7 linked regions of the Homo sapiens genome follow. The protein of the gene in region 6 purifies or fractionates together with the protein of the main gene of each other region. This does not show direct contact. Each region holds a gene or a part of one and is shown on either strand. Other genes may lie near its edges. The genes, in order: SLC35F2, PPP2R5E, ABCB8, DAGLB, TNPO2, VSIG1 and TNPO3.

Region 1 (4,057 bases), on a different chromosome or scaffold from region 6:
GCTCTATTTTGGTATTTCTACTTTTGAACTTTGTTCAGTGTTCCTTTCTAAAACCTAACCACTGGATCCAACCCAGGGTTGTAGAGTGTCCATTCTGAGTCTGCTATTTCCCCAAGTGTCCCCTCAGCAGGCAGCAGGCTCTGCTTTATCCTGGTGGGGGATGGGTGCGCCATCTTCTCCAGCTACAAGACAGCAGAGTGGGTCTCCTGGAGGTTCTCCTCCAGCTTCAGCCCCAGGTTGTCAATCCCAATGCTGGTGACTGGAGGCACGCTGCTTTCAGCCGGCTCGGCCGTGCGAGTAGGGGTGGAGCAGTACAGGATAAACCCCACCATGATGACAGTGAAGGACAGGATGTAGAGTCCTGAAAACTAGAAGGGAAGAACAGGCAGTGAATTGTGCCCCTCACATACACATCTTTGCTGCTGGCTTTTGCCAACTGTGCTTCGAGGATTACCCTCTCATAATCTTTTTATTTTCTTTCTTTCTTTCTTTCTTTCTTTTTAAGACAGGGTCTCGCTCTGTGGCCCAGGCTGGAGTGCAGTGGCACAATCTCGGCTCACTGCAACCTCCACCTCCCAGGCTCCAGTGATCCTCCCGCCTCAACCTCCAGAGTAGCTGACACCACAGGCACTCACCACCACACCCGGCCAATTTTTGTGTTTTCTGTAGAGACGGGGTTTTTCCATGTTGCCCAGGATGGTCTCGAACACCTGAGCTCAAGCAATCCGCCCGCCTCAGGCTCCCAAAGTGCGGGGGATTACAGGCGTGGGCCGCCATGCCTGGCCTCATGATCTTTTTTCTGAAAGTTACCTAAGGAGATGCTAATGCACAAAACCTTCCCATGTATGCTGGTGAATGATGGGACTCTGCCAACAGCACCCGGCACATAAGCCACCTGGATCCTTGGATCTTTAGGAGAAATGGACCTTTGCTTTTCTCTGTCATAATCCAGCTACACCCCACTCTGCATATAGTCCCACTTAGTGGAGAAAATAAAAGGTCATCATGGATACCACAGAGAGCCCCATTCAGACCCTAGACACTGCTTACAATATTGGTATGAAGCAGAGGAACGTAAGACTATGATGAAATGTGGAAGTACAGAAGGGGCATCTGCTCAACAGCCTCTCAATGTGTGCTATTCAATGAAATTCATTTTGCTAAAATTTAATACATTATCTTGTCTCTGTGGGCAAGTATTACATAGTAAAATTTATGGTGGACTGAGCAGATTCAGAATTGTAGAGCTAGAAAGAGCCTAAGATACTAGAAGAGTCCAAAGCCCAAAGAGGTGACTGAGTGTAAGGTCCGGTGAGGACAATCATAGGAAACAGAGCCCTGTGAGAGGCATCTCATACACTCTCTGTTCCCAGAAGGACCAAAAAGAGCAGGAGCCCATTCTGACAGAAATTTTAAAAGTATGGATGGAGTTTTTGGTGACCTTCCCCAACTTTCCCCTTCCTAAGACTGAAAACCACCACCCAGAGCAAAATGCAATGAGGAAAGAACACTAATTCATTGGGTATATATATGGAAAAATGATATACCCCAAAAGTCTAAATAAATTCTATTAAGAATTTTGTATATTTCCTCTTGAGTTGAAAATCCATACAAAAGTTGAAGTATTAAAGAAATCAGTCTGTATTTTTTCTTTTTTTTTTTTTTTTAGACAGAGTTTTGCTCTGTCTCCCAGGCTGGAGTGCAATGGCGCAATCTTGGCTCACTGCAACCTCTGCCTCCCGGGTTCAAGCGATTCTTCTGCCTCAGCCTCCCGAGTAGCTGGGACTACAAGCATGCACCACCATGCCTGGCTAATTTTTGTATATTTGGTAGAGACGGGGTTTCACCATGTTGGCCAGGCTGGTCTCGAACACCAGACCTTGTGATCCGCTCGCCTTGGCCTCCCAAAGTGCTGGGATTACAGGCGTGAGCTACCACGCCTGGCCATCAGTATGTATGTTTAGCAGCATGATAAAGCACAGAAAGAGAGTGGCTAAAGACTGACCAAGAATGGTGTACTAAAAATTAGAGAAACTATGTACTGTAACTAATGTGTAATCAAATACCCAGGGCCTTATTTTTCCTTTCAACTGGAAAAGCAAACTCAACTTATGATTAATCCTGCTAACCTGATTTTAAAATTAGGAATGGAGTAGCTAACATCATACTGAATGGGGAAAATATAAAAGCCTTACTTTTAAGAACTGGAAAAAAACAAGGATGCCCACTTTCACCACTCCTATTCAACATAGTACTGGAAGTCCTAGCCAGAGCAATTAGGCAAGAAAAAGAAATAAGAGGCATCCAAATTAGAAAAGAAGAAGTTAAATTATCCCTCTCTGTAGATGACATGATCTTATATCCAGAAAAACCTAAAGATGCCACAAAATAGCTCTTAGATCTGATCAATAAATTAGGTAAAGTTGTAGGATACAAAATCAACATATAAAAATCAGTAGCCTTTCTATACACTAATAATGAACTAGCTGAGATAGAAACCAAGAAGGCAATCCCATTTACAACAGCTACACAAAATAAAATAGGACTAAATTTAACCAAGGAGGTGAAAGACCTCTATAAGGAAAGCTACAAAACCCTGATGAAAGAAATTGAAGATGACACAAATGGAAACACCCATGCTTATGGACTGGAAGGATTAATCTCATTAAAATGAGCATACTGCCCAAAGCAATCTATAAATTCAGTGCAATCCCTATCAAAATATCAATGTTATTTTTCACATAAACAGAAAACACAATCCTAAAATTCATATGGAACCACAAAAGGGCCCAAATAGCCAAAGCAATGCTGGGCAACCAAAACAGCATGGTATTAGTATAAAATGAAAATGAACTCCTATCTCTCACCATATAAAAAAATCAACTCAAGGTGGGATTAAAGACTTAAATATAAGACCCAAAACTATAAAGCTACTAGAAGAAAACACAGGGAAACACTTTAGGACATTGGTCTAGACAAAGATTTTATGGCTAACATCTCAAAAGCACAGGTAACAAAAACAAAAATAGACAAATGGGACTATATTAAACTAAAAAGTTTCTGCACAGCAAAGAAGACAATCAACAGAGTGAAAAGATAACCTCCTGAATGGGAGAAAATATCTGCAAACTATTAATCCAACAAGGGACTAATAACCAGAGTATACAAGTAACTCAAATGACTAAAGAGTGAAAAACAAATAATCCTATTAAAAAGTGGGCGAAGGACATGAATAAACATTCACCAAAAGAAGACATAAATGGCCAACAGGTATATGAAAAAATGTTCAACATCACTAATCATCAGGAAAGTGCAAATCAAAGCCACAATAAGATATCATCTTACCTCAGTTAGAATGGCTATTATTAAAAAGTCAAAAAATAACATGCTGGCAAGGATGTATAGAAAAGGAACTCTTAGGCCAGGTGCGGTGGCCCACGCCTGTAATCCTAGCACTTTGGGAGGCTGAGGCGGGTGGATCACCTGAGGTCAAGAGTTCGAGACCAGCCTGGCCAAGATGGTGAAACCTCATCTCTACTAAAAATACAAAAACTAGCTGGGTGTGGTGGTGGCACCTATCCAGCTACTCGGGAGGCTGAGGCAGGAGAATCACTTGAACCCAGGAGGCGGAGGTTGCAGTGAGCCGAGATCATGCCACTGCACTCCAGCCTGGGCAACAGAGCAAAAACTCCATCTCAAGAAAAGAAAAAGAAAAGGGAACTCTTAAATACTGCTGGTGGGAATGTAAATTAGTATAGTAGAGCCACTATGGAAAACAGTACGGAGATTCTCAAAAAACTAAAAATAGAACTACTATACAATCCAGCAATCCCACTACTGGGTATTTATCCAAAGGAAAAGAAATCAGTATATCAAAGGGAGATACCTGCACTCATCTGTTTATTGCAGCACTATTCACAATAGCAAAGATATGGAATCAACCTAACTGTCCGTCAGTGGACAAATGAATAACGAAAATATGATATATAAACACAATGGGATACTATTCAGCCACAAAAAAATGAAATCCTATTATTTGCAGCAACATGGATGGAAC
Region 2 (4,057 bases), on a different chromosome or scaffold from region 6:
CTTGTAAATGTTTTGGAAACATCAGACTCATGGTTTATTTAATATATGGCTAATTTTTACCAATGCATTTTTCAGTGGTATTAGGAGCATGTTTGTTGCAAAACGGAAGCAACGGATATTTTTGCAAAAGGAAAAGCTATTTAGACTCTAGTCTGAAGCTATCAAGCCCATCATAACCTTGTCCTCACATTGCCCAAGAGCTAATTCTTGTTAAGTATGGGCTACCATTTTGGCTGTTTAGCTGTATAGTGTCCCATAGCTAATAGCAACCATCCCAGCTTGCCAGTTATCAGCATATATTTTGGGTCAGCAGGACTGGTGCAGATCAGAGCTAGACAGATAATTCATATTGAACCACCCAACCTACATGAGGGCTTGATTTCATTTCTTTGGATAAGAATAATTTATATATATACACATATATATATAACATTTGTTTCTAGGGAAGTAGCTTCTGATTTTGATGAATTATGTGTTATTTAGAAAATAGAATTCTATGCAAATTCAGATGTCTAAGGTTAGTGCTATCACAGATCCTTATTTTAGGGTGAAATTGCTTTACTATTATACTTGCCTTTTTATTAAATGAAATTATCAAATGCCCACAGGCAGCTCTATTCTGGGTGCCAATAATTAGAAGGGCAGGCCAGGTGTGGTGGCTCACGCCTATAATCCCAGCACTTTGGGAGGCCGAGGCAGGCAGATCACCTGAGGTTGGGAGTTCGAGACCAGCCTGACCAACATGGAGAAACCTCGTCTCTACTAAAAATACAAAATTAGCCAGGTGTGGTGGCTCGCTTCTGTAATCCCAGCTACCCAGGAGACTGAGGCAGGAGAATTGCTTGAACCCAAGAGGCGGAGGTTGCGGTGAGCCAAGATGGTGCCATTGCACTCCAGCCTGGGCAACAAGAGCGAAACTCCGTTGCAAAAAAAAAAAAAAAGAAATTAGAAGGGCAAAGTTAGATTTTTTTTCTAGTTCTACCACCCCTCAGAAAATTATCTTGCCTTGAAATCTCTTGATGTGGAAATGAACTGTAGGTCATTTTCAGTTGTTCCAACTAAAAAAGGATACAGACAGTGTGCAGTACGAGAAATCATTCAGACAAAAGTTGTGCTTTTGCTTTCTTCATTCAGTATCCCATTTTATAAGACTAACTAACACACTCCTTTTTTTCTGTGCTTTCCAGGGCTATTGTGGCGTTGGTGTACAATGTGTTGAAGGCATTTATGGAAATGAACAGCACCATGTTTGACGAGCTGACAGCCACATACAAGTCAGATCGTCAGCGGTAACTTTTTAAAGCTTTTTTGTCAGCTGTGCATAAAGCTATTGAGTTTTTTCCTTGCTCTTTGCTGAAGTTGCCTAATTGTACCCCAAATCTTAAGCAGCACAATTTTGTTTACAGTCATGCATTACTTAACAACCAGTATATGTTCTGAGAAATGCATCCTTAGGCAATTGTATTGTGTGAACATCATAAGTATACAGTAATTACACAAACCTAGATGGTGTAGCCTACTATGACACACCTGAACTATGTAGTATTGCCTGTTCTTCCCAGGCTACAAACCTGTGGTGAATACCGTAGCCAATTGTAACACAAATCACTAGGCAGTAGGCCTTTTTCAACCCTGTTAAAATTTTATGGGACCACCGTGGTATATGTGGTCTGTGTTGACCGAAATGTTGTTATTTGGCACATGACTGTATTTATATATTCATTTTTGCACACTTATTAACTGTGTCTTTATTTATTTATTACTGTGCCACTGAGTAACAAAGCTTCCTGACACTCATTTTGATAAAGCCCGCTTTCTTTCCTTTCTTTAATAATATTTCACTTCTGCCTCAGGGTTAAGAGCCCAGCATTTAACTGGTATTTTAGGTTCACTTAAAGGGACCATCAGGTAGTTTGCTCTCTGGGATTCACTCCCACTCTGAACTTACTTGAAGTATAATTGGGCAGATCTTGTACTTCACTCCAATAGCAGGGGGAATGAGGCACCATTTATCTAGCTCTTGGGCCCAGGACTTACTAGAACCCAACAAATTTATTACAATTTAAAGATCAGTGAAAAGAACATGAAGGTTAATAGTCTGGTATTAACCAGAAATGTTTGAGACCATATGGGAGAACAAACCAGTGGAACTCTTTGCAATAAATGCTTATGGCTTAGTAAAAATCTTGTCCAATGCATTCTACTTTCCAAAAGATGTACTTGGGGAGATTATAGAAGTCTAGAGAGCTCTTAGTAGTTGCGCCTGTGGTTTGGCTTTGATCATCCATAAGCAGATGTCAGCTTTGTATATCATAAAGCTATGGACCTTAGAGGACCCAGAGATGTGTGCGAGTGTTCATACCCAGGGTCTTGCTGAACCTCTCTGGTTCCCTTGGTGCTTTGCTTTGTCTCATTTTTAGTCTGTCAACTTGCATTTTATTGATAAAAAGAGCAATGAGGGGAAAGGTTTGATGGCAGAGGGACCATTGCAATGATTTTTTTGTTTTAAGTTACCAGGGATGTGGTTTATGAAAACCAACTTAATTATGGAATGTGGTGAGTATTTAGCTGAGAATCTCAGAAGAGGCTGGGATTTTTTACCCAGAATATTGGGATTATTATCAATTATGGGATATGTTATTCCATACTCACAGTTTAAACAACTTTTTTTTTTTTGTTTTTTGAGATGGAGTCTTGCTCTGTTGCCCAGGCTGGAGTGCAGTGGCGCGATCTCAGCTCACTGCAAGCTCCGCCTCCCAGGTTCATGCCATTCTCCTGCCTCAGCCTCCTAAGTAGCTGGGACTACAAGCACCCGCCACCACGCCTGGCTAATTTTTTGTATTTTTACTAGAGACAGGGTTTCACTGTGCTAGTCAGGATGGTCTCGATCTCCTGACCTCATGATCCACCTGCCTCGGCCTCCCAAAGTGCTGGGATTACAGGCGTAAGCCACCGCGCCCAGCCCTAAACAACTTTTAATTCAGTATATTAGCGATTGTTGCAAATTATAAATTTATGATAACCCTCCTTGCCCCAAACTTAAAATCTTTAAAGGATGTTACTTAAAAAAACGGCCAAGGGTACATTTTAATACTGTGTTGCATCGTTAAAGGTGCTTTGTGCATAACATCTTCTCTGAAAGCACATTATTATTATCCTAGTTGAACCAGGATTAAATCCGTAGAATCTCATCAAGAATATTGAAGAACTTGGCTGGGCACGGTAGCTCACGCCTGTAATCCCATCACTTTGGGAGGCTGAGGCGGGCGGGTCATCTGAGGTCAGGAGTTCGAGACCATCCTGGCCGAATGGTGAAACCCTGTCTCTACTAAAAGTATGAAAATTAGCCAGGCACGGTGGCATGCGCTTGTGGTCCCAGCTACTAGGGAGACTGAGTTGGGAGGGTCAGTTGAACCCGGGAGGTGGAGGTTGCAGTGAGCTAAGATCATGCCACTGTACTCCAGCTTGGACATTGGAGTGAGACTCTGTCTCAAAAAAAAAAAAAAAAAAAAAAAAAAGAGAGAGAATATTGAAGAACAACTTATTTCCACTCAAATTATTTGGTTTGTATTTAGTGAACTTCAATAATAAAACTATTTTCTGGTTATTATCTAAACTAAATAGACTAAACCCTTGAAAAAGATGAGAATTAACTAAGGGGACCAGGAATAGATAAAACTATTATTTTATCTATTCCTGGTTGAGGTTGATTATGATATTCTGGCATATTACAGTTATTTATAATGAGTGTACTTTCTTAATGAGAAAATGGGGGCCAGGCGTAGTGGCTCACGCCTGTAATCGCAGCACTTTGGGAGGCCAAGGCAGGCGGATCACCTGAGGTTGGGAATTTGCGACCAGCCTGACCAACATGGAGAAACTCCATCTCTACTAAAAAATACAAAATTAGCCGGGCGTGGAGGCACATGCCTGTAATCCCAGCTACTCAGGAGGCTGAGGCAGGAGAATCACTTGAACCCGGGAAGGGGAGGTTGCCATGAGCAGAGATTGCATCATTGTACTCCAGCCTGGGCAACAAGAGGAATCCCAGCTCTTT
Region 3 (4,057 bases), on a different chromosome or scaffold from region 6:
TGGCCAAGCAGTACGGTGGGAGGTAAAGTCAGAGTCTCAGGCCCTAAAGGGGAAGTGGGGGTCCCGAAGCGGGAGGGTTGGGGCTGGACAGTGCAGCCACCCTCCCCACAGGGAGACTGTCCCACCACTGCCCACCACAGAGGGCTAAGGGGTGATTTTATTAAGGGAGCCACTGGGCTTCTTTTTTTTTTTTTGAGACGGAGTCTTGCTGTTGCCAGGCTGGGGTGCAGTGGCGCAATCTCAGGTCACTGCAACCTCTGCCTACCAGGTTCAAGCGATTCTCTTGCCTCAGCCTCCCGAGTAGCTGGGACTACCACCATGCCCAGCTAATTTTTGTATTTTTAGTAGAGACGGGGTTTCACCATGTTGGCCAGGATGGTCTCGATCTCTTAACTTCACGATCCACCCACCTCGGCCTCCCAAAGTGCTGGGATTACAGGTGTGCGCCACCGCACCCAGCCGCCACTGGGCTTCTTATGGGCCCTCAGGACTAAAACGACCGTCCCATTCAGAGAGGCCAAAACTCTGGTCAAGGGAAGTGGGTCAGCGCTGAGCAGGGCAGGCAGTGGTGGAGGCAGCCCCCCAAGACCCCATCTCTATCACAGTGAGAGCATCTGAACTCCAAAGCCACGACAGAACAGCTCCCAGCCCCCCAAGACCCCATCTCTATCACAGTGAGAGCATCTGAATTCCAAAGCCACGACAGAACAGCTCCTTGGGCTGGAGGAGGGCGAGGCTGCCAAGGAGGCCTGAGCCCGGGACCAGAAAGGGTCTGAAGGTGCTCAGATTAGGGAGCACGAGCAGAAACGGGGCACGCGAGGGTGTCCATGCAGCTGCGGAAATGGGAGGAACGTCTCTGTGGAATGTCAGGTTTGGGGCTGAAAATGGGAGCCTGTCTCCGTCCGCCTCCCGCTTCCTGGGACAGTACACCCTGCAGTGAGGGGTTCTGATCCGGCGGACACACACGCAGGGGTGCACCATGCAGCAGGGCGAGGACACATGCCTCAGTAGAATGGGGTGGGGGCCCCGGTGGAAGAGCAGGGGGGTCGTGGGGGGAGGGATGGGGTGGCAGAGGTGATGCACGGTTCGTGGAGACGGGTCTTCACCCTTTGATGATCTGTTACAGCATATTTACTATCTCATTATTTACCATAACATATTTATGTAGAACTGCTTGTGTTTAGCTTGGAAAGAGATAGGAGGGGGGAGGCCCGCCTTGAGCTGTCTGGTGATCAGCTCTGGTCATCCCAGAGGCTCAGCTGAGCGGGTGGTTTTGGACCAACGCAAAGCAATAAGCTATAAGGGTGGGGTGTGTGGGGACAGGGGTCAGCTTGTCATCCCTGGAAGTGGCAGGCATGGGGAAGGGCAGCTCACACAGCCTGTCAAGGATGGTCCTTCCATGCATGGAATGTCACAGCCTGCAGCGGAAGGGAATTCGGACAGGGTGCAACACGGAGGAAGCTGAGGACACAATGTGGAGTGACAAAACGCAGTCACAAAAGGACATAGTCTGACTCCACTTAGAGGACGTCCCTAGAGTTGTCAAATCATAAGGACAGAAAGTGGAATGGTGGGTGCCAGGGGCTGGGGGAGGGCAAATGGGGATTCCCATGTCATGGGGATAGTTTCCGCTCTGCCAGGTAAGAGTTCTGGAGGCGGACGGTGACAACAGCCGCACAGCAATGTGAGTGCACCCACTGCCCATGAGCTGCACACTTCAAAATGGTTAAAATGCTGTATTTTATGTTTTGTGTACTTTACCACAGTTGAAACAAATTTTTAAAAAGCCTGTCAAGGAAACTTCTGGGTCCTTTGGAAGGCTGAAGATGACAAGCACCTGCCTGCTGCAGCGCCACTGCCCCAGCCAGGAGGGTTGTTATGGGCCCTGAGGGGCTCTCTCTCCCCACCCTATGCATCCCTGGGGAAGCTGGGCAGGCCTGGAGCTGCACAGCAGTCGGCCCCCAGAGAAGGCTGGCACCCGTGTCCCCTAACCCAGCAGGGCTCTGGAGGGCGGCAGGGGGCTCTGTAGCAATGGGAACGGCCCCCACTTACCTTTGCACTGTCTGGGAGGCCACCAGGAAGGACATGAGGTCTCCCCCTGTCAGCTGCTGTCCGGCCACAAGGGAGCCCCCAATAAATAGGGTACCCAAGACCATGCCTGCAGGAGAGGGGAAGTGAGGGAGGACGAAGCCAGGGCAGAGGAAACAGCCCTGGGCCTGCTCTGCCACTGCTGACTGGGAGAGTCAGGTGAGGCGCATGACTGGTCCCAGCGTTGGCTTCCTCCTCGGAAGAGCAAGTTGGGGTGGGCACGCCTCCATGGCCTCCTTGAGGGTGGCCCTGTAGCGTTCCACATGGAGTCCCATAGCTGGGTTGGGACATCGGCACCCTCCCTTTACCTGCAAGAGTTAGCAGCTGGCCCGAGGCGAATGCAGGCAGCCAGCAGATGAAGGGAGGGCCTTTGCCTGCCTTGGCTGCTCCCAGCTCCTCCCCAGCCCACAAGCGCCCCTCCAGCCCCCAAATGGCTCACTCACAGTTGAAGGCGATGTTGGAAAGCCCTTGGAACAAGGCGATGCCGCGGCCCAGCTCCTCTGCCCGGCAGCGGCAGGCTTCCAGCTCTGCCCCATAGCGCCTGGTGAGAGAGACCAGTGCATTCAGGAGGCAGCTGGGCTGGCACGAAGGGTTGGCAGGGTGTGGGGGGCATCTCTGCTTTGTGCTCCGCCCTCCCAGGACTCACTCCTCTTCCCGTTGCTCCATGGCGAAGGCACGCACAGTCCGCACATTGCCCAGGGCCTCGTCTGCTACGCCCATTGCCCTGGCGATCTGCAAGGAGTCCAGGAAACAGGACAAGGAGTCCAGAAAACAGGACAAGGAGTCCAGGATGGGGACAGGGAGGAGTTCCGGGGAGTGGAAAGAGAAACGGTGTGGGGAGGGTGAAGAGGATGGCCAGGAATGCCGGTACCTGCTCCTGACACTGGCGAGACAATTTTCGGAGGCCTGAGCCCATCAGGGTGCCCACTCCCATCAGGGCTGGTGTGGCCACCATCAGCAGCAGCGTGAGGCGTGTCGACAGCATGGACAGGGACACCAGGCAGCCTGCCACCTGGGTGCAGCTTCGCAGCCCCTAGGGAGTGGGAGGGAAGGCGGGAGGCTACGGCGTCCGCACCATGACAGGAAGGACTTTTCCAAGGGTCAGCTGACTGTAGCTCTGCACTCCCACGGCCAAGGCCCAGGTCTTGGCCCCTGGGAGGCCCAGTGGCAGTCCACCGGTCACAGTACGTAACCCTAACTCGGCCAGTTGGGGTGCGAGCAGCAGGCCTGAGGGGGCCGAGCGAGAATGCTATGAACTGTGGCATCCTTCCCCTAGACAAATCCCAGCTTGCTTCTCTTTCTGTTCTAGGAACTGAACAAAGAGAACTGCATGGGGGTACACCAGTGACTGCCTAGGCCAGTGTGTGGCATGATCCAGCAGTCAGAGTCGGTGTGGGCGGATAAGGGGAGGGCATCTGTGTTCGGTAGGCCACTGCACATGCTCAATGCTTGTCAGCAATCCAGGCACTCTGGGGACAAGGCAGGCGAAGTGATTTTGCTCTTGCCAGGAAAGGCTCTTGTCTGAGTGCTTGGGAAGGCTTTCCAGGGAAGATTCGGTTTCAGAGCAGTGGAGAAGCAGCCTGTCCTGACCTTGGACACTGCCTCTACACTTTCCTTCCATGAACTTCCATGGTCCCTCACCCATGCCCTCACAGGCAGTGGGTTTCTCGAGTCAGCATGCGCCTGTCAGCCCAACATCAGGGCTGGGGCGGGCAGGGCTGGCCTGGTGAATCCACATGGGAAAGTGTGTGTGTGGACGTGGTGGGGGCCACTGGGCCACTGACCTGGGAGATGACAAGCTTGAAGGATGACTTAAACTCCTGCACGTCAGTTGTCAAGCGGCTCACCAGCTGCCCTGTCTTATTGGCGTCAAAGAAGGTGATGTCTTGTCTGGCATGGGACAAGAACCAATAAGGAGGGCAGAAGAGGGAGACATTACTTCAGGATAAGGTCCTACCCCCAGACCCCT
Region 4 (4,057 bases), on a different chromosome or scaffold from region 6:
CAAAGATGCACTGGAGGCCGGGTGCAGTGGCTCACGCCTGTAATCCCAGCACTTTGGGAGGCCGAGGCAGGCGGATCACAAGGTCAGGAGATTGAAACCATCCTGGCTAACACGGTAAAAGCCCGTCTCTACTAAAAATACAAAAAATTAGCCAGGCGTGGTGGTGGGCGCCTGTAGTCCCAGCTACTCAGGAGGCTGAGGTAGGAGAATGGCATGAACCCGGGAGGCGGAGCTGGCAGTGAACTGAGATCGCGCCACTGCACTCCAGCCTGGGCGACAGAGCGAGACTCCATCTCAAAAGAAAAAAAAAAAAAAAAGATGCCCCAGCAAAAATGAAGGGGCAGAGGCAACAGGCGATTCACTGCGGCAGAACCTGCACCGGCAGAGGCTGGAGCCTCCAAACACCCATCCACAGAACTGCCTTCAGCTCCCAACAACGAGTCACATAATAGTGCGTCCCGCACAGCTGGGAGAAGGAGGAGGACTGTGTGTGCCACTGCGGGGTCATCTCAGGACATGCGGTGAAAGTGAACAGCCACGACCAGAGACAGAAGAGCAGGGAAAAGGTGCAGGCTTTCATCAACAGGAGGAGAGGAACACAGACACGCTTCCTTCCAGCCATGGACATAATGGAAACACCAGTCAAAACCACCACATTCTACCTCTGGGGTGACAGAAAGGACTTTTTTGTTTTTGAGATGGAGTCTCGCTCTGTCTCCCAGGCTGGAGTGCAGCGGCACAATCTCAGCTCACTGCAACCTCCATCTCCCAGGTTCACGCCATTCTCCTGCCTCAGCCTCCCAAGCAGCTGGGACTACAGGCGCCCACCACCACGCCCAGCTAATTTTTTGTATTTTTAGTAGAGATAGGGTTTCACCGTGTTAGCCAGGATGGTCTTGATCTCCTGACCTCATGATCTGCCGGCCTTGGCCTCCCAAAGTGCTGGGATTACAGGTGTGAGCCACCACACCCGGCCAATTTTTTTTTTTTTTCTTTTGAGACGGAGTGTAGCTCTGTCACCCAGACTGGAGTGCAGTGGCACGATCTCGGCTCACGGCAACCTCTTCATCCTGGGTTCAGGCAATCCTACTGCCTCAGCCTCCCGGGTAGCTGGGACCACAGGCACACGTCACCACGTCCAGCTAATTTTTGTAAGGAACCGGGTCTATGTTGCCCAGGCTGGTCTCGATCTCCTGGGCTCAAGTGATCCTCCTGCCTCAGCCTCCCAAAGCGCTGGGGTTACAGGTGTGACCCAACATGCCCAGCCTCCTGATGTTTAAGTATCACTATACACTACAGTTACATTTTCTCTTTGGTGTAACAAAAGCCTTTCCTACCTCTTTCCAATGAAAAGGCCTGGAAATTATGACCAGCCCTGTGGTAATGAGAACTACCAGTGCCCCGATTTCAGTTCAGAAATACCATTTCCTGCTAAAAGGAACCAATATTCCTTGGAGAAACGGTTGATTCCAGATATGGACGATGGAAAAAAAAAATACTTGCTCATTTCAAGCCCAAAACTTGAGAATATTCTTGAGAAAGCAAGAAAATGAGGCCAGGCACAGTGCTCAACACCTTTAATCCTAGCACTTTGGGAGGGTGAGGCAGGAGGATCACTTGAGCCCAGGAGTTCAAGACCAGCCTGGGCAACATAGCAAGACCCTGTTCCTTACAAAAATTAGCTGGATGTGGTGGTGTGCGCCTATGGTCCCAGCTACTTGGGAGGCTGAGGCCGGAAGATCACCTGAGCACAGGAGGCAGAGGCTACAGCAAGCCATGACTGTGCTGCTGCACTCCAGCTGGGGAGACTGAGTGACACTCTGTGTCAATTAAAAAAAAAAAAAAGACAGCAAGAAAACAGACGACTGAAATTTAAGTTTTAAAAAATTAATGTCTGCCTCTGTAGACTGCTAGGCAACAATTCATTATTCTGAACACTTCTTTATTGAGGGAAAGATTTAAGCACTTATACATTCTCCTGTTTTTTCCTGTGTGAACTATATGTCAAAGAAACCAAGTGTGCGAAGAAAAGCTCTTTTTGTTCTTTACGTACATACTTTTTAATCATCCCAAAGGGCCGGGATTACAGGCATGAGCCACCACGCCTGGCCTTTATTTCATTTTAATGAAATAAAGTGGTATAATTTTCCTTTATAATCATGGCAAAAGGTTACACAGAACAGTCAGTATGCTGGAATCAGCAAAAAAAAATATAAACTTTTCAGCCAGGCGTGGTGGCTCATGCCTGTAATCCCACCATTTTGGGAGGCCAAGGTGGCGGATCATGAGGTCAGAAGACAGGAGATCGAGACCATCCTGGCTAACACGGTGAAACCCGTCTCTACTAAAAAAATACAAAAAATTAGCCGGGTGTGGTGGCGGGCGCCTGTAGTCCCAGCTACTCGGGAGGCTGAGGCAGGAGAATCGCTTGAAGCTGGGAGACGGAGGTTGCAGTGAGCCGAGATCACGCCACTGCACTCCAGCCTGGGCGACAGAGCAAGACTCCGTCTCAAAAAAAAAAAAAAAAGTAATTTTCAAACTCATAAAAATGTCTTTAAACATGTGCATTATGCATGTGTCCCCACCCAGGGCATATGCCCCCCGAGAGGGCGGAGGGAGTGCTCAGCATACTACGGGCTCTGGGCGATGTGCCTACCAGGCGCATGGATGTCAACAACCGGACCCCTCTGCCAGGGCTGTGAGAATGGGGGAGGTTGTGCTTGCTTGTGGGGAGGGAGGGTATGAGAGATCCCTACAATCTGCTGCTCAGTTTTGCTGTCAGCCTAAAACTGCTCTAAAAAATAAAGTCTGTTTGAAAAAAGACTCTTAGAATTAAATCATTGAGGAAATTACAGGTATGGTCACATAGGTCTAAGAAAGGCTAGACAGACTTTCTTCTGTGAAATAGCGCTTCAAAACACAAACCTCAGCTGGGTGCGGTGGCTCACGCCTGTAATCCCTGCACTTTGGGAGGCCGAGGCGGGCAGATCACTTGAGGTCAGGAGATCAAGACCAGCCTGGCCAACATGGTGAAACCCCACCACTACTAAAAATACAAAAATTAGCCGGCATGCTGGCGGGTGTCTGTAGTCCCAGCAACTCGGGAGGCTGAGGCAGAAGAACCGCCTGAACCTGGGAGGTGGAGCTTGCAGTGAGCCGAGATCACGCCACTGCACTCCAGCCTGGGCGACAGAGCAAGACTTCATCTCAGGAAAATAAAAGAAAAAAAAGATGAGTCTTGACCACATGACTTGTAAGTAGCAAGCTGTTAGAGCAGGAAAACAAAGGCTCACCTCCACAGCCCCCGGGGTGGGGAGAAGGCGTAGCACCTGACCTGCGGGTAGGCGGCTCTGAGCATGGTGGCCAGCAGGGCGGCCGCCCCGCCCCCGAGGCTGTGGCCCACTATGACCAGCCGGTACTCCTAGAGGACAGACAGCAGAATGAGGTGAAGGGTAAAAACAACAGCTCCAAAGAGGACAAGGAAAGAAACGTTAACTAAGATCTCACAGGAGCAATGCTGAAGGCTTGGCTCAAAATCCCGTCGTTGATGAGTCGTTGGTAAACGTATCTGGCAGCTTGAGAAATACCCTAAAAACACAGACAAAGAAGGTGGCCGTTAATCCTCAGACAAGGCAGGCCCAGCAGAGACTCAAAGATGGGATGACGCTGTGCACTGATGTGTGAGTCTCTCCTGGGATCTGAGACTGCAGAATCAGCAGCCACGTCCATCGTGCATGGCTGTGCTCCTGGCACCTTGCACAGCGCCTGACGTGAAGCAGGTGCCAGGTGTGGTGGCGCACGCTTGTAATCCCAGCACTTAGGGAGGCCAAGGCAGGAGGACACTTGAGCCCAGGAGTTCAAGACCAGCCTGGGCGACATAGTCTCTACTAAAATAAAAATACAAGACCAGCCTGGATCCTGACTCTACTAAAAAAAAAAAAATTAACGGGGCTTGGTGGCGAGCGCCTATAGTCCAGCTACTCGGGAGGCTGAGGTGGGAGGGTCGCTGGAACACATGAAGTTCAGGCTGCAGTGAGTTATCGTCGCACCACTGGGC
Region 5 (4,057 bases), on a different chromosome or scaffold from region 6:
GGTAGGAGGATTGCTTCAGCTGGGAGGTCAAGGCTGCAGTGAGCCATGATTTTGACACTCCACTCCAGCGTGGATGACAGAGCAAAACCTTGTCTCAAAATAAAAAAGAAAAAAATGATTTGGAGAGAGGCAAGCAATCCAAGTTTGTCAAGGAGGGTCAGTTTTAGGACTTTTGTTGGAAACACTGGTCGAAAATTTCTTTACTCTGAAGTTCCTAAGCTGGAAGGGCACAGAAGGCTACAGCACTACCCAGAGGGAAGGTTGTGCCTAAGAATGAAGCCAACACAAGGGAAGCAGATCTGAGACCACAAAGATGCCTTTCACATCCTTTGAGCTCCTGGATACAGCCATACCCCTGAAGCCTTTGTTGATTTTTCATTTCTTTTTTTTTTTTTTTTGAGACGGAGTTTTGCTCTGTCACCCAGGCTGGAGTGCAGTGGCACGACCTTGGCTCACTACAACCTCAGCCTCCTGGGTTCAAGCAATTCTCCTGCCTCACCCTCCCAAGCAGCTGGGACTACAGGCGCCTGCCACCACGCCCAGCTATTTTTTTATATTTTTAGTAGAAATGGGGTTTCACCGTGTTAGCCAGGCTGGTCTCGATCTTCTGACCTTGTGATCTGCCCGCCTCGGCCTCCCAAAGTGCTAGGATTACAGGTGTCAGCCACCACATGTGGCCATTGATTTTTCATTTCTTTCCACCTATCAGTTACCTAATTTTGAAGTCTTCAAAAAGTGGCATTCTTACCACTTACACATAAATATATACTGAATGTAAACTGACAAGGATGTGGACTGAGAGAAGCACAGCAGGTGACCAGAAGGGAAGGCAGAGGCATAGCAAGGGGTCGAAGCTGGGGTAGGACAGTGGGCAGCAGCAGCACTCACTGGACCAGATGGGAGGCCAGGACTTCCTTGCAGATGGGCTGCTCGGCCAGCGTCAGCCAGAACTCACAGGCCTCAAGGGCAACGTTCTCATCATGGTCCTGGGTCCTCTGCAGCATGTACTGTGGTAGGGGGGAGAAGCTGAGGCCTGGCCTGGCTGGGGGTGGCTCCCTGACCCCTGCCACCGGCCCCCTGCCTGCCCGCCTGGGCTGGCCTTGACCATGCACACCTGGATGATGCTGTGCATGTGGGGGATGAGCCTGTCAATCCGCACTTCCAGAAGCATCACCAGGGCACGGCACACATTCTTCCGCACCTCGGGGTCATCATCCACAGCCAGGGCAAATAGGTGCTGCAGGGAGGAACAGGGTCAGTTGTAGGGGCCCTCAGTCCTCGCCCTGCCCACCCCCAGCCCAGCGGCCCACCTCGATGAAGGTGTCAATATTGTCCATCAGCGCCTGGGCCCGGTCCATGATGAACTGGTTCACGCAGGCGATGGCGTGGGACCTGGCGGGGAGCAGACACGTGGGTCACCCTGACCCTGCCCACTCCAGGCTCCCTGGAAGCCCCCAGGGAGCTGCACCCACCGGATCTTGGGACTGCAGTGCTTGAAGAACTGCAGGAACTTGGGGATCATGATGTTGAGGGGCCTGTTGAGGGCGTCACTGTCCAGAAGCTCTGATGAGTCTTCACAGATCTTCTGCAGGGCTCCAAAGGCTCCCTGAGTGCAGAGGGGCAGAGAGACAAACGTGGGTGGTGGGTGGTGGTCCCAGCCCCCCAGTACTCGCTCTGGCCATCCATGGCTTCTTGCCTACCTCACAAGTGTTGTAATCCTCCGAGTTAAGCAGGTTGCAGAGCTGGGGCAGCAGCTCGGGCCACATCTGCAGCTCACCCTTGGAAGCGATGGTGGTGATGAGAATGCCTGGGGCGGCCGGGAAAGGACGCTGCCTGAGGCTGGGCAGGGGCTGCCTAGCACCTCCCCCTCCCACTGGACACCCCCAGTGCTGCCTTTCTGTTCCCTAGCCCATGTACGCCCTCTACATCCCCCCTCCTTTTTTTTTTCTTTGTAAGAGATAGAATTAGCTCTGTTGCCCAGGCTGGACTGCTGTGGCACAATCAATAGTCCACAGCAGCCTCAAACTCCTGGCCTCAAGCCATCTTCCTGCCTCAGCCTCCTAAGTAGCTGGGACTGCAGGCACATGCCACCACGCCCAACTAATTTTTAAAATTGTTTGTAGAGATGGGATCTCACTATGTTGCCCAGGCTGGCCTAAAACTCCTGGCCTCAAGCAATCCTCCTGCCTTGGCCTCCAAAAGCACTGAGATTACAGGCGTGAGCCACCGCTCCTGGCCTTGACATAGGTAGAAGGGTACTCCTTGACTCAGTAGGCACCCTGAGCCTTACTGTGAGTCAACTCTGTTCCAGGCCCTGAGGCACAGCACAGAGCAAAACACAAAATCCTCACCCTTGGGAGCTGGAAGCAAGCTATGAAGTAAAGATAAATTAGCAAAAAAAACTGGGAGGGGCCGTGCATGGGTGGCTCATGCCTGTAATCCCAGCACTTTGGGGGACCGAGGTGGGTGGATCACTTGAGGTCAGGAGTTCGAAACCAGCCTGGCCAACATGGTGAAACCCCATCTCTACTAAAAATACAAAAATTAGCTGGGTGTGGTGGGGGGCACCAGTAATCCCAGCTACTTGGGAGGCCGAGGCAGGAGAATCACTTGAACCTGGGAGGCAGAGGTTGCAGTGAGCAGAGATCGCGCCACAGCACTCCAGCCTGGGATGGAGCAAGACTCCATTTCAAAAACAAACAAAACAAAAACAAACAACTGGGAGGGGCCACATGCCAAGGACTAAGGGGGGAAATACAGCAGAAAAGATGGTGAGAAAGGGCTGTAGGTGAAGGTAGCAACTTTAAATTGGGTGGCCAGAGCAGGCCTCGTTGAGGTGACATCTTGATATCTGAGCCAAGGCCTGAAGGAGGTGAAGGAGGCGAGGGAGGAATCATCCAGGTTTCTGGGGAAAGGGCATCTGAGGCAGGGGACTCTATGGTGCAAAGGCCTGGCGTAAGGACAGGCATGATGAGAGAGGGAAAGGAGGTAAGGGCAGGAAGGTGGCAGGGATGCTTGTACTGCCTATTAGATATCCAGGAGTTACATACAGCAGGCATCTGAGGTGCCAGGACAGTGCACATATCTGGTGACAGAGCTGGATATGGGTTCTGTTAAGTGCAGAGATGGTATTTGCTGCCATGAGATGGCAGTGTTTCCCAAGGGTGGAAACTCAACGAGAGAAAGGTGCTCCCTGCAATGGGTAGGTACACAGTGAGGATTGTGGAACTTTAGCCACACCCCCTCATTCTGTGTGCCTCAGTGCTTCCAGCCCTCAGAAGAGATAAAGAAAACCAGCCTCCTAACTAAGGTTATCAGTAGGTTTCTTTTTCTCTCTTTTTTTTTTTTTTTTTTTTTGAGATGGAGTCTCACTCTGTAGTCCAGGCTGGAGTGCAGTGGCACAATCTTGGCTCACTGCAACCTCCACCTCCCGAGTTCAGGTAATTCCCCTGCCTCAGCCTCTGAAGCAGCTGGGATTACAGGTGCCCGCTGCCACACTCAGCAAATTTTTGTATTTTTAGTAGAGATAGAGTTTCACCATGTTGGCCAGGCTGGTCTCGAACTCCTGACCTCAGGTGATCCACCTGCCTCAGCCTCCCAAGGTGCTGGGATTAGAGGCGTGAGCCACTGTGCTCAGCCTGGATCAGTAAGTTTCAATGACTTAGCAAAGAGCCTGGCACATAGAATGAGCTCAGGAAGTCCACATCCTACTACTGGCCTGGGAGGGGGTTTTTGCAGGACTAAAAGTTACTTTTTATTTTTGAGATGGAATCTCAGTCTGTTGCCCAGGATAGAGTACAGTGGCATTATCTTGGCTTACTGCAACCTCTGCCTCCCGGGCTCAAGCAATTCTCCTGCCTCAGCCTCTCGAGTAGCTGGGATTACAGGTGCCCACCAGCTGTAATTCCCAAGTAATTTTTTGTATTTTCAGTAGAAACGGAATTTCACCATGTAGGCCAGGCTAGTCTCCAACTCCTGATCTCAAGTGATCCGCCTGCCTTGGCCTCCCAAAGTGCTAGGACTATAGGCGTGAGTTACCACACCCAGCCAGAAGTCA
Region 6 (4,057 bases):
TGGATCCTGGCTGCTTAAGGAAAAGTCATGACACAGAGCTATCTGACACAAAGACTCATGGGAAAAAACACCTCTGAGATGAAGTGACCCTCAACTTCTTATGGAAATTGATTTGGGATCCTCTGAGCTTTAAATTTAAGAATATTAACCTTCTTGTCTAACTTTATCTCAGGGCTATTTCCAAGCTCTGAGATGAAGAGACTTGGCTTCTTTAGATTGTTTCTGGTCAGAACATCCCAGAACCAGGAAGCAACAGAAAATCATTAGCTAATCCCTCCAGTTTTTGAACATTTAAAAACCCCTTTGATCTCCAGTATTTCATTTTATAGGTAAAATAACAAAACTGTTCATAACAAACCTGTAAAGAAGACAGGGCAGAAATTATAACCCCATCTCACAATGGTCAGAGAAAGGTGGACTGACTTGTATAAGGTCACTGAGTACAGAGTAAGATCTAAAACTCAGGTCTTCTGAGTGCCAGTTTGATGCTTTGGCATTTATAGCACATCACTTAGTTCCCATGTATATAACTAACTAGTTGATATGGTTTGGATCTGTGTCCCCACCCAAACCTCATGTCAAATTGTAATCACTAATTTTGGCGATAGGGCCTGGTGAGAGGTGACTGGATCATGGGGGCGGATTTCCCCCTCGGTGCTGATCTTGTGATAGTGAATGAGTGCTCATAAGACCTGGTTGTTTAAAAGTGTGTGGCATCTTCCCCTCCCCTTCCTCCTGTTCCAGCCATGTGAGACATCTTGCCTCCCCTTTGCTTTCTGCCATGATTGTAGTTTCCTGAGGCTTCCCAAGAAGCTGCTATGCTTCCTGTACAGCCTGCAGAACCGTGAGACAATTAAACCTCTTTTACTTATAAATTACCCAGTCTCAGGTATTTCTTTACAGCAATGCAAGAATAGACTAATACACTAGTCTTCCAAACTGAAACAGAAACTCTCCCAGGAATTTGCTTGAGTAATACTTCTCTTGTCTGTTCCTGTACCCCAATTCCTGGCACAGAACTCAGTAAGATAAAAATATGATTGATTAAGCTAACCCACTCTTAAAAAATAGCTCTTAGGTACCTTTCCCTCTTTCCCAGGTGGGTAGATGCAGTGGCAAACCTCACAGTAAATGTCAGCTGGTTCCTTTGTGGCATTACCTGAGTGGCAAGCCAGGACAACTGTAAACAGTTCTCTTGGGTATGCACCTTGTTACCAATTGCTGCTTTTCCAAGCTACTCAACTATTAAGTCACTGATTTGATGTAGTTCCTCCTTTCTTGTGATGTGTGCACACAGCTTGAGAGCAGCAATGACTAGATCAGCTTCATTTGGGGCTACCTAGAAGTGGGAAAATGCTCATCTCAACTGGTCTGTCTGTAAGAGTTGAGGATTGGCAGCCCTTTCATCCCTTGCTTCGATACTTCCCAATACCAGCCTGCAGATGGAAGTTTAGCCCACATTGTCCTCTCAGACAGAGATTGTAAGGACTTCTAGAAATGGCCAAAATTGGGAGCTTCCCAAGGGCAAAAACAACACCTCCATCACTGTAACTCAATAAATACTGAACAAATGAGATTCCAAATTCATTTTAAGAGCAGATACGGCTTGCCCAATATCATATAATGAATATTTGTATGTAAATATGTTGATTCTCAACACTAGATTAATTTCAGTCCTTTTTCCAAATAACATTAGCATTTTAAAAAAGGGACTCTCCTGTCTTTATTTAAAAGAATAATTTAATGGTGGGAATTGTGTCGAGCTTAAAAGGAATAATAAGTTGACAGTAGTCTCCCCCAGGTAGATCTGGCTGTAAATGGAGGTTTCCTCTAAAAGAGTTGCTAGTGATCATTTTGTGGGACAGTGGATTGTCTCATCTGTTCTCATTCCATCCCTCAGAGATAGGGATCACTGGAGGTTGGGTCATCTACTGCTGTCATTTTGGCAGCCCGTTTGCACAATTGTTCTGCATGTTTTATGAGTGATTTCTCAGTGTTACTGTTTTGGTTGGGCTGGTGGCTTGTCTCTATTTCCCTGATAATGAAAATATTAGGGAGTATATTTACCTACAGAGACTTAATTGGCATCATAACTCACTGTCCTGGCTCATTCAGTGTCCTAACTTTTTCCAAGAAAAGAAAAAGCAGAAAAAAGTGCTCATACCTAACACACTGACGTTGAGGATGCCTTGGTTTTGGCCGAGAAAGTCTGGGGGGTTGTTAACATCGCAGATGTAAATTCCACTGTCTGCTGGCTGCATATGCGAGATAGTGATAGATGCATTACCTGGATCGTTGGACCCTGTAATTCGATCTTTAAATTGCCCGATGGCTACAGCTTGTCCACCTTGAGAAAAGTAAATCTAGACAGAAAAATAACAGAAGTGAGAACTGGAGAGAGTCCAGGACTAGGATAAGCTACCTGAAAGCTTCTTCTAAACACATTACCTTTGATAAAGAAGCAGCATCTTCCCCCCACCAGGAACAGGTCCCTGTGGCCAAGGTTTCTCAACTCAGTGGGGCACTTTAGTTTGCTCACAGCTGCGCATTTGGCCCTCAGAGCAGCTCTGTGATGTCATCAGGGCAGGGATTAGTATGCCTATCTTACAGAGGAGGAGGCAGCTGGAGCTGACAGGATTCAACACCTAAGCTTGGGCTAGGAGATCAAGATGCTCACTTAATGAATCCACCTGAGAGAAACTCATTATGTAGAACACAAATGTCTGATGGGAAACCAAAACCATCATTTTTTTTTTTTTACCATTTTATAAACTTCTTAAAATTTGAATTTACCTTACCCAGTGAGACTATCTGGTTTCCTTAAATGTTCAAATGTTCATGCTCCTTTTAGACACACCTACTCTTTTGGATAGACAAACTTGGGTTTGTTTTGTTTATTAGAAGCAAAGCGGAAAAGCATCTTAGAAATCATCTGGTCCCATCCCTTTATAGTGGTGTTGTGAAGATGAAACTAAGAAATCTAGTAAAGGACCTCGGAAGTGCTCAGCCAATGATAGCTACCATCTTTCTCCCCATGTGGCAGAAGGCAGAACTGGAATTCTTCTGTCATTTAAACAAATAAGGCATCTCAGACCCAGAGAGATTAAGTGACCCATCTGAAGCCACAAGGGCTCATTTATTATTATTATAACTTATTAAACTTAAGATCTGGATTCTAGTCCCATTTCTATTAAAGAGCATAGATACTTAGATCATAATGGCAACTGTGGGAGCAGCATGATGTGGTGGAAAGGGTCCTGGTCTAGGGGTCAGGTGGCTTGAGTTAGTCACAGCTCTGCCCCTCACTGTGATATAGTTAGGGGAGGTGGCCTCTAGTCATGCCTCCATGGCAGCCTGGTTTTAGATAAGAAACAAAGTTATTTAATCTCTCCAACCTTTACTTTCCACATCTGAATGAGAAAAGAGAGTAATGTTTTCCAAAGTATGATATGTATTTACCAAGTATAGGCATTTAAGTTGATTTTAGGTAGTATATAAATGAAAACTTACAAATTTCAATGTGTATTAGAAACAGAAAAATCTAGCACATTAAATCTATGACTTCCTGAATATTGTTGCATAGGGTAGATTAAGGTAGATATTTTTTAAGATTTTAAGAAAACAAGTCAATACAGAAAATAACATTAAATAACAAATAGTGCTGGTGATACACAAATATGACAAAAATCATGTAGATGGTACATGAATGACTGAAGCTGGGAAATCACTGGATTAGGTAATTCCTGAGGTCCCTTCATAATACACACCTTCTATGTACATGTTTTGTTGGTTTCATGTAAATGTATATTATTCAAGTGATTGTTATTGTTCAATAAACTGTATTGTCTTAGTCTGGTGAGACTAATTTTTCATAAAATCTACTGGAAGGCCTTACAGTTCATTTAATTCACTTCCCTCAGTTTACAGAAGAAACCAAAGCCCAGAGAGGTTAAAAAATAAAAGGCAAAATTGACGGTTGAGACAGATCTGGAATCCAATTTTCCTAATTCCTTGTACTGTGGGCTTTACCTTAACAGGCCAATAAAAGAGGGAAAGC
Region 7 (4,057 bases), on a different chromosome or scaffold from region 6:
CACTGTGCCTAAGGCACAGTAAGAGGATCCCTACCATCCTTTTCCCATCAAGGATCCAAAACAGAGCTATTTAAAACAATGCCCAACTTGGGAGCACTTCTTTCTCACTTTTTTTTTTTTTTTTGAGACGGAGTTTCGCTCGTCTCCCAGGCTGGAGTGCAGTGGCCCGATCTCAGCTCACTACAACCTCTGCCTCCCAGGTTCAAGCAATTCTCCTGCCTCAGCCTCCCAAGTAGCTGGGATATTACAGGTGTGAGCCACCACGCCTGACTAATTTTTATATTTTTAGTGGAGACAGGGTTTCACCATGTTGGCCAGGCTGGTCTCAAACTCCTGACCTCAGGTGATCTGCCCACCTCGGCCTCCCAAAATGCTGGGATTACAGGTGTGAGCCACCAACCCCGACCCTTTCTCATTTCTTATACTATAAAGAGGTAAAACTTCTCAAATAAATGAGATTTTAAAAAATCTAGCAAACCTCGGTAAGTAGGATGTCAAGGATTCTGAATGACAGAGACCCTTAAGTCCTTTCAATCCCTTTGTCATTCTCATCCATCATTTGGAGAAAAATTGGGGGTGTTAAGACTTGTGGAGGTATAGTTAGAATTTGGTGTTTTTTAGCTGTAACACTCTAGAGAATAAGTCAAGCTAGACAAGGGGTTCATTGGAAAGGCTTGCTTTCTAACGAGTTCCTTGAGGGGCCTACAACAGCCCAGCCAACCAGGTAAGAAAACAGAAATGGACACAATGCAGAAACCCAAATATAATTTTTTTAAAAAATTCCAAAACAGATGAAATCACATTAATTAAAAACAAGACTGTAATTTCTCAACAATAAAAATTTGGGCACGAGGTAATGAAATATAGATAATATGCAGCACACAACTTGGAGAATAATGGCCTTTGAATAGCATAAACACTACCTCATATTGAGGATGGCCTGCACAGATAAGCAGCAGCTCCAGAGTTCGAAGGTCCCCAAGACCTTGGCCTGGAGTACAAACAATTTTTTCAAGAAAAGTTTCACATAGTTCAGTGAAAATACGGCAGTAATTCAGAACTCTGTAGAAGACAGGGGAATGAGAACAATGAGTCAGAAATCTGGATATTATAAGTATATACAGGCACAGTTAATCAAATAAATAAAAGGTTCCTCAGTCTAAGGGACATCTAGTGATTATTTACTATGCTGTATCACAATCCCCATGACAGACACCTTTACCTAGATCGTACACTCCTACGCAAGTGACTTGTCAGTTCAAATTCTCAATTATTAAAACATTTGAATAAAAACTCCCATCAAATCACACTTGATATTTTAAAATTTGTCTCCAACTTTTAAAGCCTTACCTTTCTATGGTAATTCTACAAACCCTGCACCCAATTTGCCACTCTAGGTTCAGAAGAGCATAGTAGAGCATCTTTAGGAAGCACTATCTGTACTTTACAGAATCACTGAGAATCACAAATGACAGACGAATAATAAAAAGTGACTTAAAAGAATGACCAGACTGTAGGTAAACCCAGGGCTCCAGACTTAAACAATTACTCACTTGTCTAAATCTTCACGTGCCACGGCCATATGATAGGCAGTCTCCAATGTCAGCACTCCCTGAAAAAGTTGCATGGCTAATGGCAAGTTAGTCTCCACATTCTCAATGGCATAGAGAGCTGAGCATACACAGTCCGAAGCAGCTTCATGTAGGTTAGACGAGGTCTTATCCTGTTGCTGGGGAGGTAGCAGGAATAGGGAAGCAAGAAGTATGATCACTAAGGAGTGATCTACAGTTGGCCCTGCACACCCTAGGGTTCAATCAACCATCGATAGAAAATATTCAAAATATAAGTAAATAATAATACAATGAAAAACACAAATTTAAAAATTACCCTATAGCAACTATTTACATAGCATTTACATTGTATTAGGTATTATAAGTAATTTACAGGTGATTTAGAGTATATGGGAAGATGTGGATAGGTTATATGCAAATACTGCACCATTTTATATAAGGGACTTGGGCATCTGCATCTCTTGGAAACTGTGCACAGAGGGGCAGGGGTAGTGGGTGGTCCTGGAACCAATCCTTTGAAGATAGTGATGGATAAATGTAATAGGAAAACAATTAGAGCCTCTTTCTTTCTTTCAATTATAGCCTCTTTCTGAACATGTACTTTAAATGTGTAACAGTCAAGTCATAGCCTTCCATGAGACAACATCCATCAATCTTCCCAATCTTATTTCTATTTCCTTATATGTCAAGCAAATCAGCCTTTCTGTCCCGAAGTCATGGTCGTATCATTTCTAATCTCCATGTTCTTGTTCACACCAGCCCCTCCAAATGGAAAGCCATGTGTTCCCTACCCTATTCTAGTGTGTGAAAAATCTTTTCCATCCTTTTTCTGATACTCAAGTACTACCTAAAATGAAAGGGCTCAACAAGTATCAAAGACACATACCTAAACACATCATTGTGAAATTTCAGAATACCAGAGTTAAACAAAGGTCTGTAAAATTTCAGGGGAAGAGAGGAGGAGGTAATAGTAAGGAGCAGAATTCAGAGTTCTCTGACTTTTCATTAACAATGATGCATGCTAGTAAAGGAGAGCAAGGCCTTTGAAATTTTGAAGGAAAATAATATTCAGCCTACAACTTAATACCTAGCTGAGCCATCAATCAAGATCGAAAGCAAAATAAAAATAGTTCTCAGGCATGCAAAAATTCCAAGTTTACTTTCCATTATATCTTTTCTGAAGAAGTTATTTGAGGGGGTTTGAGAAACAGCTAACCTAATCCAGAAAGCACAGTAAAGACAAGTCCCAAGATGACAGGGAGTAGATCTAAAGAACAACTGATGCAAATCAGAGCAGACCAAAAGGTCCAAGAAGGGAATCCTCCCGGGTTTCTAGTGAAGAGAGTACAGTTGAGAGGTTGAATACACTTAGTAAGGGCGTATTAGTCTTCCTTGAATAATTTTTTTAAAAGGATATTTAAAATCTCCAGTGGGACAAAAAGGTATATAAGCAGGTTTGGGAGAGCACAAAGATGCAAATTATTTATTAGGTATTCTTAGATTGAATAGTAGGTTCAAAGATTCTCATTATATTACCAAGTTATAAAAAGTCAGTGTTCGAGCTGGGCATGGTGGCTCACACCTGTAATCCCAGCACTTTGGGAGGCCAAGGTGGGCAGATCACAAGGTCAGGAGATCGAGACCATCCTGGCTAACACAGTGAAACCCTGTCTCTACTAAAAATACAAAAAATTGGCCGGGCGCGGTGGCTCACGCCTGTAATCCCAGCACTTTGGGAGGCTGAGGCCGGTAGATCACGAGGTCAGGAGATCGAGACCACGGTGAAACCCCATCTCTACTAAAAATACAAAAAATTAGCCGGGCGTGGTGTCAGGTTCCTGTAGTCCCAGCTACTGAGGAGGCTGAGGCAGGAGAATGGCATGAACCCAGGATGCAGAGCTTGCAGTGAGCCAAGATGGCGCCACTGCACTCCAGCCCCGGCGACAGAGCGAGACTCCCTCTCAAAAAAAAAAAAAAAAAAAAAAAAATACAAAAAATTAGCCAGGTGTGGTGGCACACACCTGTAGTCCCAGCTACTCAGGAGGCTGAGGCAGGAGAATCATTTGAACCCAGAGGGCGAAGGTTGCCGTGAGCCGAGATTGTGCCACTGCACTCCAGCCTGGGCGACAGAGGGAGGAGACTCTGTCTCAAAAATAAATAAATAAATAGTAAGTGTTCATACTTATTCTTTTGTATATATGAAGTATTTTAATTTTTAGGGTTTTTTTTTTTTTTTTTTTTTAAGAGCTGTTGGGGGAAAGTTGTACCAGAAAGTCATGGTCCAAACATACAGCAAAATAAAATGTGACATGGCCAGGTGTGGTGGCTCACATCTGTAATCCCAGTGCTTTGGGAGGCTGAGGTGGGAGAACTGCTTGAGGCCGGTTCAAGACTAGCCTGGGCAATAAAGAGAAACCCTGTCTCTAGAAAAAATTAAAAATTAGCCAGGCATGGTGGCACATGCCTATATCCCAGCTACTTGGGAG

Evidence for each region.
Region 1: the proteins of VSIG1 (region 6) and SLC35F2 purify together in Homo sapiens (co-immunoprecipitation; 3 studies listed by BioGRID and IntAct, with this or other methods). This does not show direct contact.
Region 2: the proteins of VSIG1 (region 6) and PPP2R5E purify together in Homo sapiens (co-immunoprecipitation; 3 studies listed by BioGRID and IntAct, with this or other methods). This does not show direct contact.
Region 3: the proteins of VSIG1 (region 6) and ABCB8 purify together in Homo sapiens (affinity purification with mass spectrometry; 2 studies listed by BioGRID and IntAct, with this or other methods). This does not show direct contact.
Region 4: the proteins of VSIG1 (region 6) and DAGLB purify together in Homo sapiens (co-immunoprecipitation; 3 studies listed by BioGRID and IntAct, with this or other methods). This does not show direct contact.
Region 5: the proteins of VSIG1 (region 6) and TNPO2 purify together in Homo sapiens (affinity purification with mass spectrometry; 3 studies listed by BioGRID and IntAct, with this or other methods). This does not show direct contact.
Region 7: the proteins of VSIG1 (region 6) and TNPO3 purify together in Homo sapiens (co-immunoprecipitation; 3 studies listed by BioGRID and IntAct, with this or other methods). This does not show direct contact.

What each region holds. Positions count from the first base shown.
Region 1 is NC_000011.10:107,792,433-107,796,489, forward strand, and holds part of SLC35F2 (solute carrier family 35 member F2), read right to left. Parts: intron 369-4,057; coding exon 183-368; 3' UTR 1-182.
Region 2 is NC_000014.9:63,379,288-63,383,344, reverse strand, and holds part of PPP2R5E (serine/threonine-protein phosphatase 2A 56 kDa regulatory subunit epsilon isoform), read left to right. Parts: intron 1-1,187; coding exon 1,188-1,289; intron 1,290-4,057. UniProt on the Homo sapiens protein: The B regulatory subunit might modulate substrate selectivity and catalytic activity, and might also direct the localization of the catalytic enzyme to a particular subcellular compartment.
Region 3 is NC_000007.14:151,034,645-151,038,701, reverse strand, and holds part of ABCB8 (mitochondrial potassium channel ATP-binding subunit), read right to left. Parts: intron 3,979-4,057; coding exon 3,873-3,978; intron 3,122-3,872; coding exon 2,960-3,121; intron 2,821-2,959; coding exon 2,735-2,820; intron 2,630-2,734; coding exon 2,532-2,629; intron 2,159-2,531; coding exon 2,053-2,158; intron 1-2,052. UniProt on the Homo sapiens protein: ATP-binding subunit of the mitochondrial ATP-gated potassium channel (mitoK(ATP)). Together with pore-forming subunit CCDC51/MITOK of the mitoK(ATP) channel, mediates ATP-dependent potassium currents across the mitochondrial inner membrane.
Region 4 is NC_000007.14:6,413,334-6,417,390, forward strand, and holds part of DAGLB (diacylglycerol lipase-beta), read right to left. Parts: intron 3,589-4,057; coding exon 3,508-3,588; intron 3,422-3,507; coding exon 3,294-3,421; intron 1-3,293.
Region 5 is NC_000019.10:12,713,933-12,717,989, forward strand, and holds part of TNPO2 (transportin-2), read right to left. Parts: intron 1,808-4,057; coding exon 1,701-1,807; intron 1,607-1,700; coding exon 1,473-1,606; intron 1,393-1,472; coding exon 1,311-1,392; intron 1,238-1,310; coding exon 1,115-1,237; intron 1,008-1,114; coding exon 889-1,007; intron 1-888. UniProt on the Homo sapiens protein: Probably functions in nuclear protein import as nuclear transport receptor. Serves as receptor for nuclear localization signals (NLS) in cargo substrates.
Region 6 is NC_000023.11:108,065,242-108,069,298, reverse strand, and holds part of VSIG1 (V-set and immunoglobulin domain-containing protein 1 isoform 2 precursor), read right to left. Parts: intron 2,364-4,057; coding exon 2,165-2,363; intron 1-2,164.
Region 7 is NC_000007.14:128,999,506-129,003,562, forward strand, and holds part of TNPO3 (transportin-3), read right to left. Parts: intron 1,730-4,057; coding exon 1,554-1,729; intron 1,063-1,553; coding exon 924-1,062; intron 1-923. UniProt on the Homo sapiens protein: Importin, which transports target proteins into the nucleus. Specifically mediates the nuclear import of splicing factor serine/arginine (SR) proteins, such as RBM4, SFRS1 and SFRS2, by recognizing phosphorylated SR domains.